Linked DNA regions of Homo sapiens: region 2 is linked to region 1. The links come from fine-mapping of genetic effects on gene expression. A gene starts in region 1. The other region holds a variant in brackets. All regions are shown on one strand. Distances are between the middles of the regions.

Region 1 (11,676 bases):
TGTTTTATTTATGCAGGTATTTTTCTATAAATTAAAAAATTGATTATAAAATTCACTTGGAAATGCAAAGGACCTACAATAGCCACTACAGCTTTAAAAAAGAATGAAGTTGGAGGACTAGCTCTACATGATTTCAACATTTATTATAAAGCTACAGTAATCAAGACAGTATGGTATTGACATAAAGATAGACAAACAGATCAATGGATAGATTAGAGAGACCAGAAGTAAACTCATACATATATGGACAATGGAATTTTACTCAGCAATAAAAAGGAATGAATTTTGGCATCTGCTACAACATGGATGAATCTTAAAATAACTAGGCAAAGATTAAAGAGTCATACTAAAAAAGTGCTATTTTATGATTCCATTTATGCAGAATTCTAGAACATGCTAACTATTGTATAGTGATAGAAAGCTGATCAATGGTTTCAGGAACAGAGGACAAGGATGCGGAGCAACAGAAGAAGGAATTACAAAAGAACGAGAAAGCCTTAGTGGGAAATAGATTTGTTTATTTCATGCTTGAGATGATGGCTGCACAGGTGTATGTGAAAACTTACGTAATTGTACACTTTAAATATATGCAAGGTATTGTATGTCAAGCCTCAATTTTTACCAAAGTACCATAAGGAATTCCCCTGAAACAGTAGGAAGAATCAAAGAATGATTATATAAAGGTAGAGGGGAGGGCATCATAGGCTCTAGGAGAGAGAGGTTTTGTAGAGAGTGTGAGTGGGATGGGGTTCCCAAATGGATCTGGCAGATCCTTCTGGACATATAAATAACACAAGCACAGCCACGGAGTTGGAGATGACCATGGTTGCCATAGCATGTGGGGCCCAAATGGAGACTGGACCTTGTAGAATAGAGATGATGGTTGGGATGAGTTGAAATGGTCAGGATGAGAGAGGATGTGCTGTTTCTGTGAAGGCAGGAGTTTGAATTTAATGTAGCAAGTGACGGTAACAGTTTCTGAGCAGGAAAGTGAAATGATGAGCCCTCAACTTCCTTAAGGCTCTGGTTTTTGTCCACTCTCCCTGTGAGACTGTAAAAAATGAAAATTCAAAAATGTTCAGGATTGGCCAATGCCCTCATGGGAAAAGTAACTTTTGAGAATGCTTCTCTTTCTAGATTATTGTTTTCCCTTCAATTTTGGCGGGGTAATTCTTTACTCTCTTGCCAGCTTTTTGATGCCTCCCAGAAAACATTTTTAAAGTTGTATTTTTAGTTGTTTTTAGGGGAAATTTATGTTCAAATAATCTAACTTGTCTTTACCAGAAACTGCAAGTCTTTTTTATGTCTTTATTATTACTCGTTTTACCGTGATGTGGCAAACAGAACCAGTATTCACCACCATTCAGTTTTCCTCTCCTTCTGGACACATGGAAGACAAATCTCATTCACCTTGGGATTTAGTAGGGCCATGAGATCAATTCAAGATGATAGGTTACGAGTGAAAGCAATGTGTGTGTCTCTTCTAAGCTGATGCATGTAATTGCTGATAAGAGATCTTCTCACATTCTCTTCCCCTGTTGCTGTGGCGGAGGAGAAGTGTGTTTCAGGTGAAACAATTTCAAGATTATGGGGATCTCTGTCAGTCAGGTTCCCTGAAGGACTACATGGAAGAGATCTCTGCCTTTGAACCTGTGAAAAACATAGAAGGGATAAGAAATAAACTTTTGCTGAGTCCTGATATTTGGGGGTTGATTTTTTTTTTTTTAGGAGTTTAGGAGTTTAGGAGTGGAGGTTTAATAGGGAAAAGAAAAAGAAAGAAAGAGAAAGGAAAACAGCTCTCTCTTTAATCTGGGGGTTGATTTTTACTGCAGAATATCTTATCCTCACTAATACATAGACTGTATGAGGCTACTCTTCCTTTCCTTGCCTTCCCTTCCTCCCTTCCATTCTTTCTCCCTCCCTTCTTCCCTTCCTCCCTTAATTTTTCTTATTTTCTTTATGTTTTTCTTTTAAATTGAAGAAAAGAAGCCCAAGCTCACTGTTTGAAATTATTAAAAGTCTTGATAATTGGAAGAAGAAAACCTTTGGCATCAACTCACCCAATCCCCAACCTCAACCTCTATTTTAAAGTTTCAGACGTGGACTCCCAGACAAGGACAGAATGTCAAAACATTAATGCCAGGGTTTTGGGTCTTGAATTTCATTATCTTTCCATTCCACCATGTTACAGCAAAGATAATAAGTTATATGATGTTTTTTTCTTTTTCTCTTTTTAAAAGCAGAATAAATTATACTTATTTATATAGAAACAAAGACCCAATGGGGTAAGAAGAAGTTTGAATTTTTAGCACTAGGAAAATATAATTCATGCATGGTGAGTGGGCACATGGATTATTCTCTTCCTATATTTAAGATATTAATGTTTCTTTACCTCACACTCAAGGGAGAATATGAGTCATTTCCATGAATCCAACATAATGTGTGAATTGCAAAAAGCTTTTCAATTTTTAAAGATCATTCTGTAGTCATTTAGTCACAATATTTTCCTGTCCAAAGCTTAAAGATTGAAGCATTCTTCTTCTTTTTCAAATTTAAATTTGTTTGTTTAATTCACATAAAAATTATGTATATTTGAAGTATACAACATAATGTTTTAAAATATGCATACATTGTAGAAAGGCTACATTGAGGTAATTAACATATATATTACTGCATATATCATTTTTTTTGTGGCAAGAACACTTAAAAGGTACTCTCAGTGATTTTCAAGTATAGACTACATTATTAACCATAGATGCCATGTTGTACAATAGATCTCTTGAATTTATTCCTCTTATCTAACTGAAATTTTGTAATCATTGGCCATTTCCCCAAGCCCCCCACCCCCTAGCCCCTGGTAACCACCATTATACTCTCTGCTTCTACCTCTCTAGACACCCGCCCCCCCGAGTCAGATACAAGGGCACCCAGTTGGCAGAGCCTGGATCCCATGCCCACATACCTTGGGACCCGGGAGCAGAGGGAGAGGGACTATCTGCCCCTCTTTTGCTCTGTGATGAGAGGGAGGCTGGTTTCTCACCTAGTTTGGGATTTACCCATAGGAAGGATAGTTAAATGCTTGACAGCCACAGAAACAGTTGTTCTGGGGAAGTTTGTGAGTCTCAGGAGGGCAGTGTGTGTCACCTGTCTCTGACTGGTTTGTTCAGGGAAAAGCTGGTATTGGTTATAGCTCCATGGCAACGTTAAGCGGTTTGCAAAGTTTCCATTTGCTTTAGTCAATCCACACAGCGATTGTGTTGCTTTTTTCCTTCACCATCAATTACCTGCATGAGGCATGGATAAACTTTGATTTTGTTTCAACATACTAATAGCATGCTAGGGAGTGCTCCTGTTGCATGAAGCAATGATAAAGTTCTGCTTTAGGGCACAGATGGGTCCACCTTATACTGCCCATCTCATCATAACACACGTAACTTACGATGTTTTCAATTCATGATAGGTTTATTCAGACATAACCCCATTGTAAGCCGAGGAGCATCTGTACATACTTAGAGAAGTAAAACCTAAGTGTTCAGTTAATGAAAGTCAGAATGTGAACATTCATGAGTCTCTCTTGGGTGCCCCTTCTGGACTTCTGCATTTTCCTTCCCCTTAGATATAAGCACTATTTGGATGTTTATATATCCAATTCTTGTCCTTTTATTTCTTTTTCTTGCCTAACCTTTCCTGCTAGAATTTCTGGGACAATGTTAAATAGCAGTTGTGATAGCAGGCATTTATGTCTTATTCCCAAATTTGAAGGAAAAGACATGTTTATCATTAATCATGATGTCTGCTCTAAATTTGTTACATTTTATGACATTAAGGAAGTTGTCTATTATTTCTGTTTTGCTAAGAGTTTTTATCATGAATGGATGTTGAATTTGTCACATGCTTTTTTTCCTGCATCTGTTAAGATCCTCATTTTTATTTACTGTTTTAATATTTATTATTTACTATTTTTATGTGTGTGTTTCTTTTATTTACTGTTTTAAAAGGACTTTACAGAAGTCACCCCAGGACTAAAGTGGATAGAAAACATTTTTGGTTTTTCTTTCAAGTTATCCTACCTTTAGTACCATATATCACGCAATATTTGCCATATATCATGCAATATCAAGGTTGGAAGGAACCGTAGAGGTCATACACCACTATTATCTGTCACCCAGGCTCATGAATCATCTCTGTTGTTGCTAAGTGGTTGGTTGTTCACCTGCATCTGTTCGAATATTTTCGGGTATGAAAAATGTACTATCCTTGTCCATTCTATTTTTGGAAATCTCTGGTTCCAGAAAATCATTTATTGTGTGAGCTGAAATGTGCCTCAGTGTCAGATTCATGCTTTGGTCCAAGGTTTGCCCTATGGAACATGTAGGACAAGTGTTCCCTGAGGTATGGGTAGAGGCAGTGTGTTTAGTGGGAAGCTGGTAGTCTTCAGAATTAAGCAGATCTGGGTTCACTTTCTGGCTTAGCCATTGACAAGCTGAGTGAGTCTGGATACTATAGAAGATGGCTTAACAGCCATAATTCCTTCCATCCCAGTATGACCCTCCTTTGCAATGTGACTTTGCAACTCCTCAAATCCAGAGGTAGATTCCATTTTTCCACCTCCTTGAATCTGGGCTGGCCTTTGAACTTGCTTTGGTCAACAGAATGTGGAGAAAGTCATACTGGAAAAGGTCTGAAGCTTAGGTCTCAGGGGCCTTGCTCCTTCTGCCTAGTTCCTCTTGGGATGCTGCCCTGAACCTGCCATATAAGGAAGTAATCTAGCCTATTAGATGTAAGAGGATGCTTGGAGGAGAACCGAGGTGTCCCAGCCAACAGCCTGCATGCTCTGACTAGAGCTTCTTCAATGTCAGCTCCTCCCCTGAACTTATGCAGGTGTTTTCTTGGAACTTAAATGTAAGACTTAACATTTAATCCGGAGGAATTTATTTTGATTTTTAGAGATGGGGTCTCCCTTTGTCATCCATGCTGGAGTGCAGTAGTGCAATCACAGTTCACTGTAGCCTCAGACACCTGGTGTCAAGCAATCCTCCCACCTCAGCATCCCAAGTAGCTGGGACTACAGACCCACACCACCATGCCTGGTTAATTTTTGTTTGTTTGTTTTTGTAGAAACGAGGTTTCACTATGTTGCCCAGGCTAGATTCGAACTCCTGGCTTCAAACAATCCTCCTGCCTCAGCCTCCCCAAATACTGGGATACAGGCATGAGCTATGGTGCCCAGCCCGAAATTTCTTTTTGTTAGTCTTAGCAGAGCACTCCACCTGTGCCAGGGCAATCGTGTTTTTTTTTTGTTTGTTTGTTTTGTTTTTTTGAGACGCAGTCTTGCTCTGTCGCCAGGTTGCAAACTCCACCTCCCAGGTTCAAGCAATACCCCTGCCTCCCTGCCTCAGCCTCCCGAGTAGCTGGGACTACAGGCACGCACCACCACCCCCAGCTAATTTTTGTATTTTTAGTCGAGAAGGGGTTTCACCACATTGGCCAGGATGATCTCGATCTCTTGACCTCGTGATCCACCCGCCTCAGCCTCCCAAAGTGCTGGGATTACAGGCGTGAGCCACCACTCCCGGCCAATTGTGGTTTTATATCTGTCATTTATTTCTCCACTTAGTTCATCTAGATCAGATGATTATTACTTCCATGTTTTCTATCAGTTCCTAAAAAAAAAAAAAACGTGAAATAGGACCGTGCCAGGGAAGGAAGCTTAAGGGACACTACTAAACACCTCTTCCATGCCTGTCACTGAGCCAGTCAATATTATTAACTATGTTATGCATGCATGTTATTTCCAAGCCTACAGATTGCTTTCACACATTAGCGTGTTCATCCATAGTGAATGTGGCCAGCGGAAATCTATATGGGCAGTAACATTCTTTCCTGAAGTCAAGATATACCACGTCTAGTAATGCTCTCCTGAATAAGTTATTTATTGAGTATCGACATCACAATCTACGTCTTTTCTCTTTGTTTATTGGATCACAGTGAATATAAAACTATACCTATAGTTACGATTATACAAAAGAATCTTAAGTCAGTGGTCATGGGTAAGACAGTAAACCAATTTATCTGCTTTCAGAGCTTTTAAGAAGTCAAAGTGCAAAAATGACAGTTTTGTGCAAAAAGAATTTTCAACGAGCCTGACAGCCAAAATATACCTGAAGTCGCTGCGAGACTTTACTTGGATTTTCATGAGATCGTTTGTGTGTGAGCACGCTCGTGTTTTTCCCAGAGCAGGTGTAATGATGGGTCTTTACTTACTCTCCCCACTCCCCACCCCCTTCGCACACTCTTTCACCTTGGGAAGGGTATGGGAATGAAGAAAGGAGTGTTAATCGGGTTCCCAGCGTTCCCTTATCTTTCACCTAGCTCCCTAACTACTGTGGATGTTAGGTTTGGGCACACCCATTTCAAGACAAGGAGACTGGTTCTCGAGGGAAGTGTGAGACTGAAGTTACAGAGCCTGTCAAAAGCGGAGCCTTATAGAGGGAGTAAAATCCCACGTGCTTCGTGCTGCAGCAGCTGGAGGGTGGACCTGGGTCGACCTGGGGGGATGCTCAGCCCTGCGGGTCCGGGAGCGCGCAGAACAGCGGGGAGGGCTTCTCCCTCTTCTGGGTAGGGGCGCGCTAGGTGGAGCCCCACCTCCCCTCCGCGGAGACCCACCCTCCGAGCCGGGAGAGGCGTTGCGGGGGGGTGGGGGGGGCGTGTCCCCTGGCGCAGCGCGGCCAGCGCGCACGCGCAGCGGGCGGAAGGTGCCCGGGCCCACTTTGAGCGCGCGGCTGCGCACTGAGCCGCCGGCCCTCCCGGAAGCGCAGAGCTCCGCTGGTGCCACGTCTATCCCCTTACATCCTCCTAGGACCCGGTCGGTAGTCGTCGCCCCAGCCCGCCGGGGGCGCAGCGCCCGAGCCGCGGCCCTCGAGACGGGACCGAGAGCATCATGGGCAGCACTGTCCCGCGCTCCGCCTCCGTGCTGCTTCTGCTGCTGCTCCTGCGCCGGGCCGAGCAGCCCTGCGGGGCCGAGCTCACCTTCGAGCTGCCGGACAACGCCAAGCAGTGCTTCCACGAGGAGGTGGAGCAGGGCGTGAAGTTCTCCCTGGATTACCAGGTGAGGCCGGGCGCCCGGCAGCGCTCCCTTCTCCCTCCACTCCCAGGTCTCACCTGGACACTGGCTAGCCCCTGACTGGAGGCGCTCGAATTAGCCACAGGCTACAGGGAGGCTGCATGGGGTGGGAGTCCCCGGAGACCAGTTGACTTCCCCGTGAGGAGGAAGGTTTGGGTCATCAGGGCCCACCCGAGACGAGCCTGGCCAGCGAGGAGGTAGTCAGCGCCGCAGGTGCGAGCCCGGGATGGGGACGCCAGGGCGGATCCCGCAGCCTGGGGAGCTGGCCAAAGAGATATCCGCAGGCCCCCGAGACACTAACCAACGGCAGTTCTGATCGGCTGGACACAGGCTCTCTAACCCCAGTCTCTTAGACCACCTTGTGCCTTCGAGTACTGAAAAATGGCAGCAAGAGGAAGTGGGCTCATAGTTTTAGTTTATTCCTCCCCTCTCCAGCGTTTAAAGTTGGAGTGAGGTGAGGGCAGCAGAAGTGAGAATGGGCACTTTGGAAAGGAGGGATCAGTGCAGCCATTGAGGCCTGGCGGTGTTTACAAGGAGCGGTGTGGCTGCAAGACTTGGCTCTTGCCATATGGCTTAGAAAAGCTCAGTTCCTGTATTCCTGTCTCCTTTGAGAGATCCCGTGGCCCACAGGTGACAGGAGCAGGTCTTGAGTGAGTAGTCTGCCCCGATATTTAGTGAGCAGGTCTAGGGTTGGGGGCCAAGTGGGCATCATACTCAGACAGCTATCTGCTTGTGGACGCATGCTGATAGGCACTTCAGAAATGAGGGGCCACGGGCAGCAGGAATGGGGGCAAGCTATTTGACCAGTTCCTCTGTGGTTAGAGGCACTGAAGGAAGCTTGCGCTTGGAGACAACTTCTATGTGGTAGTCTCAGTCACTGATTTGTCCACTTTCAGGTCTTTGTGGACAACATGCAAATTGTGACTGGGTTAACATGGGCAACCTAGGTGCAATGACAAAAAGAATGATAATTCTGTGGTTGCAGGGACCTCAGATGTCATCTGGTCACTGCCAGGGCGGAAATCCCTTGTCAAAGTGTGTCCAGCCTGGGTTTAAACACACTTAGCAACAGGATACTCACTGCTTTTTGCAAAGCTTGCTGAGCAGGACTAGTAACTTTTGTCCGGACAAAGAGGCCATTTAAATTTGGAAGCAGATGGAGGCCATTGACCGTGTCCTTTGATGGATCTTGGTTATAGCCATTGCCTACCTGTGAGATTTTGCTTTATGTGGGTCTTATTTTTCTTATGTTACAAGGAGAGTTTGAACTAAATGATTCCCAAAGACTCTTCCACCGCTGACACTCAGAAATTCCATGAATACTTCGATCAATATTTTTCTTCTCCTTGCATTCAGTCATTAATAATATATTGTTAATAGCTACTTGACCCATTCAGCAAGCCAAGAATGACCCTTGCTGGTGGGGGGAGGGGGAACACCTGTCTGTTATTGGAACGGAGAAGCAGGAGGTGCAGCATGCATGCTCTAGGGTGGCCCCCAAATCAGATCCCACATCTCCACTGCAACCCCAGGGGGTTAGTTTGCAGTCTGACGATTGTCCAGTAATTGGCTGGCACTTTTGGGGCCCTTGCTAAATTTATGTTGGACACCGTGCTAAACACTTTAGGTGTGATAACTTATTGACTCCTCACTTCATGGATAAAGACATATCCTCAGAGAATAAAGTAACTTGTCTAGGGTCACATGGCTAATGAGTGGCAGTGCCCTAAATCAGTGATTTGCTGTGTGTCTTGTGTTAAGTATTGAACAAAGATAAAGAATCGGTGGCATCTAGTTGCATTGGAATAGTTTCTTGGACATCCCTCCTCATCTTGCTCTTGATTTCGGGAAGCTTTATCAGCACCATCTCAGGAAGAGCAGTTATCCTGGGGTATGTTCATTCATGCTTCAGAATAGTGCAATAGGTAAATGTTTAGGCACTGGAACCAAAAGCTCTCAAGGCAGATCTCATCTCACCACTTTCTCTTGTGTAACCTTAGGGAATTTACTTAACCTTGGAACCTCAGTTTCTTCTTCTGTAAAATGGAAAGGATTAGGCTCATTGAAACCCTGCAGAGCAAACTTGGGAGTCAGGCAGGCATAGATTCAAATCTTAGCCCTTTCACTTTCAAGCAGTGTGACCACAGCCAATTTATTTAACCTTGCTCAGCCTTAGTAAAATGAGAAGTGGCGTAGCACCTGCCTTAGAAAGTTTTGAAGATGAAGTGACAGAAATGTTTGTAGAGTCTGATCACAGTGTCTGGTTGGCATTTGGTAAGTGGTGGTTGCTCCTTTGATAACAGCAATTTTTTTATGGTTGTCAGGTCATCACTGGAGGCCACTACGATGTTGACTGCTATGTAGAGGACCCCCAGGGGAACACCATCTACAGAGAAACGAAGAAGCAGTACGACAGCTTCACGTACCGGGCTGAAGTCAAGGGCGTTTATCAGTTTTGCTTCAGTAATGAGTTTTCCACCTTCTCTCACAAGACCGTCTACTTTGACTTTCAAGTGGGCGATGAGCCTCCCATTCTCCCAGACATGGGGAACAGGGTCACAGCTCTCACCCAGGTGAGTGAACATTAGCAGTTCGGGGCTGCTGAACCCCCTAGCGTGTTCCTCTTCATTGGCCTCTGTCTAGGCTGGTGGTGGGAGTCATCATCCATCCAGCTCCCAGTCTGGAAGTCTCAGGGTTGGTTTTGTCTCTTTCTTCATACCTAGTCCTAAAGGATGCCATGCTCTTCTTTCGATCTTCCTTTCCACTCTCTAACCAGGTCCCTGCAGTACTTTCCTCTGACATTCCTGTCTCTACTCTTTCATTCCCACTCAGTCTTTTGCACAGTACCACTTTCGAAGTACCTGTGTCATGTGTCTCTGCTTATATGATGTGCCTGTATCATAAAGACCAAAGTCCTACTTTGTGTGGTGTATTAGTTAAGGTAACACAAGGTGCTGTAACAAAATAAACACCAAACATCAATGGCTTAACAGAATAGAAGTTTATTCTCATGCATAATCTAGAAAAGGTTGGTGGGGAGCTTTCCTCCATGGTGTGACTCAGGAATCCAGGCTCATTCTTTCTTGTCATCTTTCTGTCTTCCCTTAGGGCTTCAGGGTCTTCTGCCTGTAGCTGCCAAAGGAAGAGAGAATGAGAAAAGCCCATCTACTTCTTAAAAGCCCAGGCCCAGTGGGAATACGTATCACCTGCTCATGTCCCATGGGTGAGAACTTAGTCATGTGGCAAAGCTGGATGAAAGGAAGGCTGGCAAGTAGAGCCTTAGCAACAGCTCCACACTATGGAGGAGAAACGGTGACATTTTGGGGGGATAGTCATGTCTGTCGCCCATGGCTGTCAAGGTTCATTATTCTCTGATCCCATCCTCCTTCGTCTGTCTTCCCTTCTGCTATTTAAGCCCCTCCTTCCCTTTCATATGCAGGCTGGGGGCTTCCTGAGGGCTAGGACCCTGAATGATTTACTTTTGTATCCTCAGTGCTTCAGTGCATAAGGTAGGGCACAGGAAGGAGCTCACCAAATACTTGTGAAATGACTGTCAGGGCCCAGGGAAACCTGTAAGACAGGAATAACCATCGATAGCAGCACGTGTGCCAGAACCAAAGCCACAGCGTCTTGAACTTTCAAGGAGGCCAGATGATCTTCTGGGCCGCCTTCCAAGGTGGCATCCTTCCTCTGTGGCTCTGGGCACACTCACGAGTGCCTGTGGATTCATTTGCCCAGTCTTCCACCTTCCCTAAGCAGTTGGAGGCTAGAGCTGCACTGTTCAGTACAGTAGCCAGTGTCTAAATTTGGCTATTTAAATTAATTAAAATTAAATTAAAAATTCACTTCCTCATCTGCACCATAGCAATACTCCAGGTACTCAATAGTCACAGGTGGCTAGTGGCCATGCATAGAAAGTTCCATTGTCCAAAACTGGGTTTGATCTTTGGGCTTTTGGCAACATGACTTCTGTTAGAAGATCCAGCCGAGGGTGTGTATTGTGTGTAAGATCTTTTGCAACCGATACTCATGAGAGTTCTGTTGGCCACTGTTGAGACAGCCTCTATTGGGAAGATTCTGTAAGTCTCCAAAAGCTGAGCTGAAGAACTTCCCCCTTAACCAGTAGAAAACAAATTGGTAGGAAAAGCCTTAAAGAATTAGGTCAACAGAGACATTCTTTCCTGGAGCCTGAGCAGTAGTTTGATTTTGTTGCAGGAAAGAGTGATTTATGCTTCCCTTTTCTTATATCTTAGAACCTCTTCTTTGCTCCTGCTTAGCCTCAAAAGAGCCGTTTCCTTCCACTTCTCTTACCCCGCCACCTTGAACCATCTGTGCCTGCCTTTGAGAGTACTTGCTTTTATGCCAGAATTCACTCAGTCTACACATTGTGCCAGCCGTGGATGGCTCTGTGCCTGGTACTGGGCACCCTGCAAGGAGCGCAGCCCTGCAAGCCAGTTGGCTATGGGGCACTGTGGTCAGAGCTGTAATTGAAGCGCCAGGAGTCTTGAGGAGGCACTGATGAATTCTTCCAGGAGTCAGGAAGGCTTCACTTG
Region 2 (11,676 bases), 23 kb after region 1:
GCACCCAAAAAAACACTACTAAATAAACTTGATGTGATGGTATCTGGGAGAGTCTGACCATCTAGATCTATCTATGAGAAAGTATTGTCAGACATTCTTGCTACTTCTTGTTGGAACTGGCAATTCGACAGCTTTTATTTGCTTCTCCCTGGAGTTTCAGTGTTATGTGCTATAGTCATTTGAGGGATGGTTCATTTTATCTGATCACAAGCCTTCTAAAATAAAATAGAAAATAGTTGCTTCCTTGGGGTTAGTTAGGGTGGCAGCACTCAGCCAATGGCCATATCTTTTTCTATGTGTTTGGGGGCTTGTGTAAGAATTCTAAGAGCTACAAAAGTAAATATAATATAGTTATCAACTCCTAAATGACATATAAGTGTTGGAGACTGTTCTGCTCTTCATAGAAAATGAAGCTGCTTCTGCTCAAGCTCTCTAGTGAATGCCAAAGCACGTTACTTTCTCTTGGACTTTGATTCAACAGTGGTTTAAAAAAGTCACCTTTCTTGGTAACTGTATTCATCGCAAAAGGAAAGAAGCACAAGGGAGCCAGTGGGTTGTATGATATAGGAGGAAGAAAAAGTCACGGCTGATCCTCTTAGGATCACCAAGCAGTCTTTTGATGATAATCTGGCTTCTCGTATCACTTGCCTTCGAAAAGAAAATATATTTGAGTTGCATTTTTAATTGTAAAAAAAAATTAAAAACCCCATTTTCCTTTAATTTATAAAGTAATCTTTCAGGCAATTAAAATATTAACTAAAATTTATCTATTCCCCTGACTTCTATGCAAAAAAACTGGGCCTTAAGCAGGTCTAAAGCCTGTGTGGGCTGCACCTGGGACGCGACCTTTGGTTTAGCCATGCTCACAGCCAGCCCCCCAAAATGGGCTGGGTTTGCATTGCACCTGGTGGACAGACATCTGGAAGCTGCAGAACAGTGGAGTAAGTGTATGTGTTGGATGGGGTTGGGGGCAAGGATAAGTTACAAAGACCCCATGTCACCTTCAGGTAGTGACCTGGCAAGGTGACCATCCTCCACATCAAGCCTGGAGAAACCACAGAAGCAAGAGAGAAGCCTGCATCTGAGGAACTCTCTCACACACACAGCTGTGAGAAACTGGAAGAGGGGTCTGTGGAGAGGGGTGGGAGGACACTGTAGCCTGGGGGCAGAGGCCCCTGGAGAGCACTGAGAAGCAAAGTTGGAGGAAAAACATTTCCATTCTGTGCCTGCCTCTCCCATGTGTTGCCTTAAGGCACCCACAGCCGACCCCTTTGCCATGAATTCAGTGGCACAGCCCAGGTTGCTGTTGGCCCTATGGGACAATAGCAGGTAGATCAAAGCCCCTGTCTGGGTGGAATCCAGTCCTCCTTGTCCTCCCCTTTTTAATACCTAGGGGTGGTGGATTAAAAACTAAGGCCACCATTTTATTCCAAAGTGGTTGTTTCTGAGAGTTTAAAGTGAACTTTGAATGAAGTTGTCAAGTATTAGCAAATGGGGATTTTCTTCTGTGATTTTCTCTGTCCAGGGGTTCCCTTCCTTCCCTTAAACTCTCTAAAGAGACAACAACCAGGGCCTGGCCTTTAGCCCTTCTCAATACACATCACCAGACCTCATGGGAGCATGACTCACAGCCCCAAACAGCTAGACTGCAGGGGATACAACAAATGGATACAAAATATCGTTATACCAGAATCACTGGAACATGTTGTAAGGTAAATGGATGTGCTTTGGTCAGGAATAGGCAGAGGCAGACATCCTGGCCAGAGTGACTCAGCAAGTTTAGCACACAGGCGCATAACTCCACTTGTTAAATAGCCTGTTTGTGTAAGCTTGTACTTGGCTCAGAGCCACTATTGTTTGTAAAAGGTATAACTGCCCTGCTGACATTGCACATACAGCTTGTGCCCAGAGAGGGAGAGAGTGTGAAGCTGTTGACCCTGTAAGGCAGAGGTGGCCTGGCAGGCCAGGGAATGCAGCTGTAAGTGTGGGAGCCACAGGAGCCGCAGGAGCCTCAGAGCCGGAGCAGGTAGCGGAGATAAAAGCAGACAGCATGAGAGAGCTGCTGAATAAAACCATATTTCACCTGTCTACAGCCCCCGAATGTTCTTCCTGCTGTCCGCCACCCATCCACCCACTCCCCTTGGACCTCAGCATGGGCTGGAACCTGACACTTGGTGTGACACATGTGGACCACAATTTTTTTAAGCAGCATGATAAATATACTCTACAAGAGAATATTTTAATAATATTTTGCTGTAACAAGAAGTCATAAAAAGAACCAAGTAGAAATGCTATATATGAAAAATATAAAAGTAGAATGTTAAAAATGACAGCAACAGGATGGCTATTTAGAGATGCCCGGTGGTCATTCCCCACCTCCTCGCCTCACCACACCCCAAGAAAGGCAATGACTAAACAGCTAAGGTTTAACTAACATCATATTGAACAGTGAAAAGCTGAACGCTTTTTCTCTAAGAACTGGAACAGGACAAGGATGCCCACTCTTAACCACTCTTATTCAACATAGTACTGGAAGTCCTAGCCAGAGCAATTAGGTAAGATAAAGAAATAAAGGTCATTCAAGGAGCAATTCAAATTGTCCTTGTTTGTAAATGACATGGTCTTATTCCTAGCAAAACCTAAAGACTCCACCAGAAAACTATTAAAATTGACAAATTCAGTAAAGTTGCGGGATGCAAAATCAACATACAAAACACAGTAACATTTATATATACAAACTACAACCTAGCTGAAAAAGAAGTCAAGAAGGCAATCCCATTTATAATATCTATAAAATAAATAAAATACCTAGGTATAAATTTAACCAAGGATGTGAAAAATCTCTACAAGGAAAACTGCAAATCACTGATGAAAGAAATTGAAGACGATACAGTAATTGGAAAAAATTCCCATGCTCATGGATCAAAAAATTAATATTGTTAAAAGGACCATACTACCCAAAGCAATCTGTGGATTAAAGGCAATCCCCATCAAAATACTCATTATATTTTTCTCAGAAATATTTTTAAAATCCTAAAATTTATATGGAACCATAAAAGACCCCAAATAGCCAACACAATCCTGAGCAAAAGGAACAAAGCCTGGAGGTATCACACTTCCAGACCTCAAAGTATACTGCAAAGCTGTAGTAACCAAAACAGCATGGTACTGGCATAAAAACAGACACATAGATCAAGAGAACAGAATAGAAAGCCCAGAAATTAATCTACATATCTATAGCTATATTAGTACATTCTCACATTGATACAAATAAATACCCAATACTTGGTAATTCATAAGAAAAAAGGTTTAATTGGCTCACAGTTCTGCAGGCTGTACAGGAAGCATAGTAGCATCTGTTTCTGGGGAGGCCTAAGGGAGCTTTTACTCATGAAGCCAACACTTCACATGGTGAAAGCAGGAGTATGAGACCAAGAGGGGAGGTGCCACACACTTTTAAACAACCAGATTGTGAGGACAGCACCAAGAGGTGCTAAACCATTCATGATAAATCTGCCCCCATGATCTAATCACTTCCCAGCAGGCCCCACCTCCAACATTGGGGATTACAGTTTGACATGAGATTTGGTGGGGACATAAACCCAAACCATAACACAGTGAACTGATTTTTGACAAAAATGCTGAGAACCTTCATTGGGAGGACAGTCTTTTCAATAAATGGTGCTGAAAAAACTGAAAATCCACATGCAGAAGAATGAAAGTAGACCCTTATCTTTCACCCAACACAAAAATCCACTCAAAATGATCAAAGACCTAAATGTAAGACCCCAAATGTTAAAACTATTAGAAGAAAACAAAGGAAAAACACTTCAGGACATTGGTCTGGGAAATGATTTTATAAATAAGACCTCAAAAGAACAGGCAAAAGAAGCAAAAAAAAAAAAAAAAAAAGGATAATATCAAACTAAAAAGTCTACACAGCAAAAGACACAGAGTGAAGAGACAATCTGAAGAACAGGAGAAAATATTTTCGAAGTATTCATCAGATAAAGGATTAATATCCAGACTGTACAAGGAACTCAAACATATCAAAGATAAAAAATAAATCCAATTAAACAATGGACAAACAATCTGAATGAATATTTCTCAAAAGAAGACATATAAATGGCCGACAAAATATATGAAAATATGCTCAACATCACTAATTATCAGAGAAATGCAAATCAAAACCACAACAAGGTATCATCTCACCCCAGTTAGGATGGCTATTTTGAAAAAGACAAAAAATAACAAATACTGGTGAGGATGCAGAGAAAAGGGAACTCTTATACACTGTGGAAGCTGAGGTGGGAGGATTGCTTGAACCTGGGAGACGGAGGCTGCTGTGTGCTATGATTGTACCACTGCACTCCAGCCTGGGTAAGAAAGCAAGACCTTGTCTCAAAAATAAATAAATACATAAATAAGAAAGAAAAGGATGAAAAAGACTTTCCAGGGAAATAACCAAATGAAAAGTGAGGCAATAGCCGTAGCATCTGACAAAATAGAATTCAAGGCAAACTATCGTACTGAACAGGAAGATTACATACTGATGTTAAAGGAACCAATGGAGGGAATGATAGAGCAGGTAGATACCGCCATCATCAATGGATAGAATTAATAACTGTATTAATTGAGAGCAGCAGACAGGATTGCCCATCAGGCTCCAAGGGAGACAATCCTGTACAGCTGCTTCAAAACTCTCAGATGTGGTGATGCCTCGCTCACACAGGCCATCTGGCCAATGCGAAACTCTTCAGCCTGGTGAGGTGGATGAGTTAAAAGTGGGAGTAGAGGGCAATTGGGGCACATTCAAGCTATTATTTTACCAGAATCTTCCTCCCACTAAGACATGTTAAAGACTTGGTTTTTCTCTTAAGGGCAACCCTCCAGCAATAGTCCCATAGTTTATTGCCATCAGGAAGATGTTGCCTTCTGAGAGGCTTGGCCAGTATGCTGGGGCAAGGCGGGCTGCTTTCCAGACAAGGTAAAACCGGCAGGCCCATTCTCGCTTATCATTCAGCTGTAAGTGTCTCATGGTGGCCTCCTTCCAGGCCCACGGACCTACCTGGTTGTGATTTCCCATGGATTAATATCTCCCTCCTGGAGCACAGCTGGGTGACATTCTGAACAAAAGTCATCTGATCTAGTGTTTATGATGTATTCTGGGCTTCCATATTGTATGATGTGGGACATGGAGTCTAGCAATTTAACTTCGTCATTTCCAAACTTTCAGGCTCACCTCCTCTCCAGCCTTAGGGAAAAACATAGCTGAGGTGAAGCCTGTGGCCACTTTATTCCCAGTCTGTGCAGGAATGAATGGCCCCTGACTGCCCAGTGTTCCATCTCGCCTGGTTTGCTTCCTCTGTGCTTTGACATTTGCATAAATCCTTCTCTTGCACTCCATTCTGACTGCCTGCTTGCAGTGGGACAGTCTTTAAACTCTGTGTATTCTAGGACATTCATCTCCAAAGAACCAAAAGTCGGAGTGCATCTGTGCTAGGACTTTACCTGGTACAGGTCTACTGGGGAGACCATTCCCCTGTGACATTTATTTAAGCAAAATTGTAAGAATGCTGATAGAACATTCTTGGTCAAACTCATAGGCAAGCAAAATCTAACACAGTTGAATGACAGGATATGGAGCAAGTTTGGGGAGAACCTGTTTTTCCAGCTCTGGTGGCAGTGACAGACTAGAATGTTGTTAACTCCTCCCTGCTCACCACCAAACTGCAAAC[T/C]GGAACTTTTAGGTTATGTAGAAAGCAACTGTCTTTTTCCTAATATAACGCTAGACATAAGCGTTTGTATGCCCTCAAAACTACTGAGCCATTATAATTCTGGAGATGCTAACATAGTTTAAGGCTATTTTCCTTCTGCAGGTTTGTGTTTTTCAGTTCAATATTTGACCATAGGAAGAAATAGTCTTCAGATATGGCTTCTGCACCAGTAACTACTTTTACACTTTTGATCACATCCTGGAGAAATCGTTCAAGAACTTGATAAGACTTTCACATGTTTTGTTGGGCTATTTTCAGCTTTCAGTAGTGCACAGGAAACAGTAATGGCTTGGCTACCTTTTTTCAATATAGACTCCTGGTGGCTGAGGCCCCCACACCCTTTGTTTAAAGCTACTGTGAGAATTAGAATTAGTAGGAAAGAGTCCTCAAATGACAATATAATATTTCAAACTAAGTAAAACAGGGCTGTACTCAGGTAGATTCTCCTTCAAACATGGTTTGAATCAAAACCAACTTTATTAATATATATGCACTCACCTCAGCTCTAAGAAATTGGGGAAAACATATCCTCCTAAGCATTTGTGGTTTGATAAGATTATCACAAATCCAGAGTAGCCTCACAGACCATAGCAAATTAGTAGAACTTAATTTGCTATTAGCTAATAGCAAATTAATAGAACTAATAGCTTAAGAGTAACTGTTCTAAACTAATTATCTTGGGCTTCTGAAGTAAAAAGGAAGATCCCTGTCTTCCCCCGACATCCAGTTCCTTAAAATCAACCCAAGCAAATAAGAGTAAAATAGAATTTAAATTACTGAAACCAGGAAAGAGCCATAGTCAAAAATCACTAGCTATGAAGAGTGGCTGTCAAATGCAGTGATATTTGAACTAAAGGGAAGGAGAGGACTAGAACAGTCCTAGAGGGTTAAGACTTTCCTAAAAGAAGAAGGTTTTGGTCCTGAATGGCCAAATGGTGGAGCTTGGAATGGCAGCATCTAGGGGCCATGTGTGAGCAGCAGGGGTGACCCCTTCTCTTTTCCTCATTTCAGAGTGGCAGGGCAGGTGGGGTCAGAGGAGAAGCTTTTCAGGCAGGTGTGCAGGAGATGTGGCAGGTGAAGGAAGGGTCGGGGGGAGCTTTATAGCCCCAAATCTCAGGAGAACTGATGAGAAAGGATGTGGAGAAGGCACCTCTGACTCGCAGCTTGCTTCTGCCTCAACTTCTCCCCACACAGTGTGACTCTTCAGCAAATCAGTGACCTGGATCACAAAAGGAAAAGTGACAATTCAAGACCAGGATCACGGCAAAGTAACAAATAGAAGGCACGCAGGAAATGTATTTCGGAAGAATTACTCCAGGAAGTCAAACAGTGCACACATTTTTTCCCTCATAGTCTTAGAAAAAGGAAAAAAATTAAAAAAGGCAACAAGACTTCAGAGAAGGTTACAAGAAATTGTAGAAGGGGTTATAATACAACAAAAGAGATGAAAAGGAGCTGTCCAGTCTCAGGGAATATGTGGAAGAGGAAACATCATTTCAGAAATGATAGTTAACTTTAAGATGCCAAAATGAGAACAGGCACTGCACTGCTGAAATCAAGGGAGGGACACTAAAGAAAGGCTTGAGAAGACTGTCTGAAAAACAAATGGAAAACAAAAAGAACAAAAAGCTGAAAGTTATTAGGGAGAGCCAGACAGCTTTGTACAACAAGGATATCCATCATGCAGGTAATTGGTGTTCCTGAAGAAGAAAACAGAACAATTTCAAAGACGTAAAAAAAGAAAGCCTTAATAAAAGTCAAGGAAGACCTAAATCCTCAGTTTAAAAAGGTACCTTGCGTTTCAGGAAAAAATAAAGCAAAATGATTAACACAGACAGATTCTGGTGATATTCCTGGGCTTCTGGGAAAAATAAACAAACAACATTGAAGTTTCATCAAACAAACAAACAACAAAGACAAAAAAGCAAGTAACCTGTCAGAGGGAGAAATCATGTGACCCCAAACTATTTCTTGACATTTACTGGGATAAGACCCTGGAATACTGTCCTCAGGGAACTCTGGGAGAGACAGTGTGGACCCAGGGAAATGATACACTGCTAATTTGTCATTCAGTTACAAAGGCCACAGGTGGCCTTTCTAAAACTAGAAGGAATTCAGGGCACAGAGCACCTTTGAACCACTCTTGAATCAGCTACCCCAGGAAAAACTCTACTGAGTAAGGAAAGGAAAGGGGCCATCACAAAAAGGGCAGGTTTTCAAGCATTTCATCCATTAAAATATACAGCTGAGGCTAGACAACTATGAACAATCTAGGGACTATAAATGTTATGAAGTCTAATTATTTAAAAATTGCAATACAGCAAATTGAAATTGAGAATTAGGAGGTGAGGGAAGGTAAGAGAAAATGTAAACGCTAGCTTTCTAACTTTTCCTGATAGAACATTAATGACTACAAAAGAAATTACATTGAGTTCTTGCTAGGCACCAACCACAGTTCTTAGTGCTTTTTTGTGTGGCATTTCATTAATCTCTCACAACAGCTCAGCAGCATAGGAACCATTAATACTCCCATCTTACAGATGAGGAAACTGAGACACAGAGAATTTAATCTTTTCCCAAGGCTATGCAGCTAGTAAGGAAAATAAGGAAAGCCATTTGGTCATCTCAAGAGGCCCTGAAAACTAAGTTTGTAAGATCAATACAAGCCATTCCTGATGAAAAATTTTGATAAAGGAATAATTGGTCAGGGATAAGGGTGGCAGCTGAAGTGTGGCTGTGGAGTCTGGAGCTACAGATTCACTCCTTTCTTATTCTGGTGCCACGGAGGTGGGGCATTTCTTATACATGAGGTTGTAAATCTTCCCCTCTCTGAACCTCTGTGGCTCTGGCAGGCAGATATTAAAACATCAAAAAGCTAGGCCCCCACTGGCTGGCTAGTGGAGCTGGATCTGGGGGTGTCTTGATAGAGCCAAAAACAAACTACATTAGGGCTGGGCACAGTGGCTCATGCCTGTAATCCCAGCACTTTGGGAGGCCGAGGTGGGTGGATCATTTGAGGTCAGCAGTTCGAGACCAGCCTGGCCAACATGGTGAAACCCTGCCTCTACTAAAAATACAAAAATCAGCCAGGTGTGGTGGCAGGTGCTTGTAGTCCCAGCTACTTGGGAGGCTGAGGCCGGAGAATGACTTGAACCCAGGAGATGGAGGTTGCAGTGAGCAGAGGTTGCAGTGAGCAGAGGTTGCAGTGAGCCAAGATCACACCACTGTACTCCAGCCTGGGAGACAGAGCAAGACTCTGTCTCAAAACAAACAAACAAACAAACAAACACAAAAAACAAACAAAGAAAAAAACACATTAGCACCCTAGCTAATATTTTTACTCTAGGTGGATCCAACCCAGCAAACTCCACCCACTACACCCACTAGAGTTGATCGATTGACTTATAAAATAGAGGGACATAGATATTTCCAGTACATGAAACACTCAGGACACTTACCATGTCACAACTTCCAAGTGTCAAAGTAGTTATAATAATAACAGACAACAAATGCTTTGTGCATCTGTCACCAGAGCAAGGGGCTTGAAAGCTCTGGGCTGTGGTGGACCCTGGTGGAACAGGCCTCACTACTACCAAGCCTGTATGTGAACTGACCAGAATCTATTGGATCTATCTGCTTTAGCTGCTATCAGTTGCAAAGTGTCATAGTCCGCTGGGGCTGCCATAACAAAGTGTCCAACAGTCTGGGTGGCTTAGAACAGAAATTAATTTTCTCACCGTTCTGGAGGCAGGAAGTCAGAGATCAAGGTGTCAACAGGGTTGGTTTCTCCTGAGACCTCTCTCCTTGGCTTGCAGATGGCTGTCTTCTGTGTCCTCACACGGTCCCTTCCCTGTGCATGTCTGTGTCCTAATTTCCCCTTTATATAAGGACAACAGTTATGTTGGGTTAGGGCTCACTGTAGTTAATTTAATTACTTCTTTAAGCCTTATCTCCAAATATAGTAACATTCTGAGACACTGTGGGTTCAGAATTCAACATAAGAATTTGGGGGAAAAACAAAAAACAAAAATAGAATAATTTGGGAGAAAGGGGAGGACACAGTTCAGCCAATAACAGACAGTGTTAGATAAATTCCATCCAAGTCTTTCAACCTATGCTGCTTTTAAAAAATTAAATTATATTCTACTAGAACCACTATTTTGTCAAGACTAGGTGCATTTCGTAGCTTGAATTACTTCCCTTTTTCCTGATCTCTTTTATAAGATATCGATCACACACTCGCATCAGCAGGAACGTGCACAGAAGATTCCTGGAGTATGGAACAGTTCGGTAGTGATCAAATCCTGACTCTGCTCCTGGGAGCTGTGTGAGGATGAGCAGACCACATGGTCTCTCCCCTCTGACCCTCAGTTTCCTCGTTTGTAACAAAATGTGGTATTAAGGGAAATGTACAATGATATTCACTGCAGCATTGTGTTTGGTGATAAAACATTACAATATAACTCAAATGCACATGGATGGGAATGAATAAACAAAACGTTGCATGCTTGTATATGGGGATACTTTATAACAGTTGGAAATGAATAAAATAGCTCCCAATAAAGCAACATGAAATAATATTGAAGACACACCAGAGTGTACAGTGAAAAAGGAAAACCATCCAATGTGGTATCACTTATATATCAGTAAAAACACACATTAAACACTATTCTGTATAGCTCATGGGAAAAATAAATGTGTTCATGTATAATATATAGTAAAATTATAAAAACACAGATTGTAAAGAAAAGTTTACCTCTGGGAATTGAAGATAGAAATTGGGATGGGGTACAAAGGAGATTTCCATTTTATCTGTGCAGTATTTTTTTCTTTAAAAAATCTGAAGAATGTATAACAAAATATTAGCATTTGTTAGTCCTGAGTGGCAGATATGTGGGTGTTTGTTATGTTACCATTAGTATTTTCTGCATTAAACATCTCAAAGGCAAAGTAAATAGAAGGATGGTAATTGCCCTGGCTTCACCTCTTAGGGCTATTGCAAGGTTTCAATAATAAAATATTTGTGAAAGTTCCTTGTAAAATTAAAAGCTCTGTACTGTGGGCGGCAAGCCACCCAGGTGCCGAGGCAAGAGACCGAGGACACGAGCTGTTCCTGTATAGTAAAATATAAAATAAGAATAGTTATACCAGATATAGATCTTAGATATGATTATATATGAATATCATTAATCATTAGTTGGTAGCAATTACTCTTTATTCCAATATTATAATAATCCTTGCTCTATAATCATAACCTAGGAAAAACCAGGCCATACAGAGATAAGAGCTGAGGGGACATAGTGAGGAGTGACCAGAAGACAGAGTGCGAGCCTTCTGTTATGCCCAGACAGGGCCACCAGAGGGCTCCTTGGTCTAACGGTAATGCCAGCATCTGGGAAGACACCCGTTGCCAGGCGGACCGTGGTCTAGCGGTAGCGTAAGTGTCAAGGAAAAACACCCACTACTAAGCAGACCGGGAAAGGGAGTCTCCCTTTCCCCGGGGAATTTAGAGAAGACTGTACTCCTCCACCTCTTGTAGAGGGCCTGACATTAGTCAGGCTCACCCGCAGTTATCCAGGGGCCTGTCTCCCTGTGATGCTGTGCTTCAGTGGTCATGCTCCTAGTCTGCCTTCATGTTCCATCCTGTACTCCTGGCTCTGCCTTCTAGATAGCAGTAACAAATTAGTGAAAGTACTAAAAGTCTCTAATAATGGTGTAAGTTGTTTCTCTCTTTGTCTCCTCTCTCTCTCTCTGCCTCAGCTGCCAGGCAGGGAAGGGCCCCCTGTCCAGTGGACACGTGACCCACATGGCCTTACCTATCATTGGAGATGGCTCACTCTCCTTATCCTGCCCCTTTGTCTTGTATCCAATAAATATCAGTGCAGCCTGGCATTCGGGG

Evidence for each region. PIP is the estimated chance that this variant, and not a neighbour inherited with it, causes the effect.
Region 2: its variant is fine-mapped to the expression of TMED3 in whole blood (TOPMed, PIP above 0.99).

Annotation. Positions count from the first base shown.
Region 1 is chr15:79,304,310-79,315,985 of GRCh38, forward strand. It overlaps TMED3 (transmembrane p24 trafficking protein 3), which reads left to right and starts at 6,803. Exons shown (of 3, transcript NM_007364.4): 1 at 6,803-7,108; 2 at 9,448-9,696. The coding sequence starts at 6,941. RefSeq lists silencers at 6,647-6,696, 6,907-6,976.
Region 2 is chr15:79,327,650-79,339,325 of GRCh38, forward strand. It overlaps a transcript of TMED3 not described here. Among named protein-coding and RNA genes, the nearest start is that of TMED3, 22 kb to the left of the region's middle. RefSeq lists enhancers at 634-1,574, 1,082-2,281, 1,575-2,514. The variant T/C (reference allele first, on the strand shown) is at 5,739.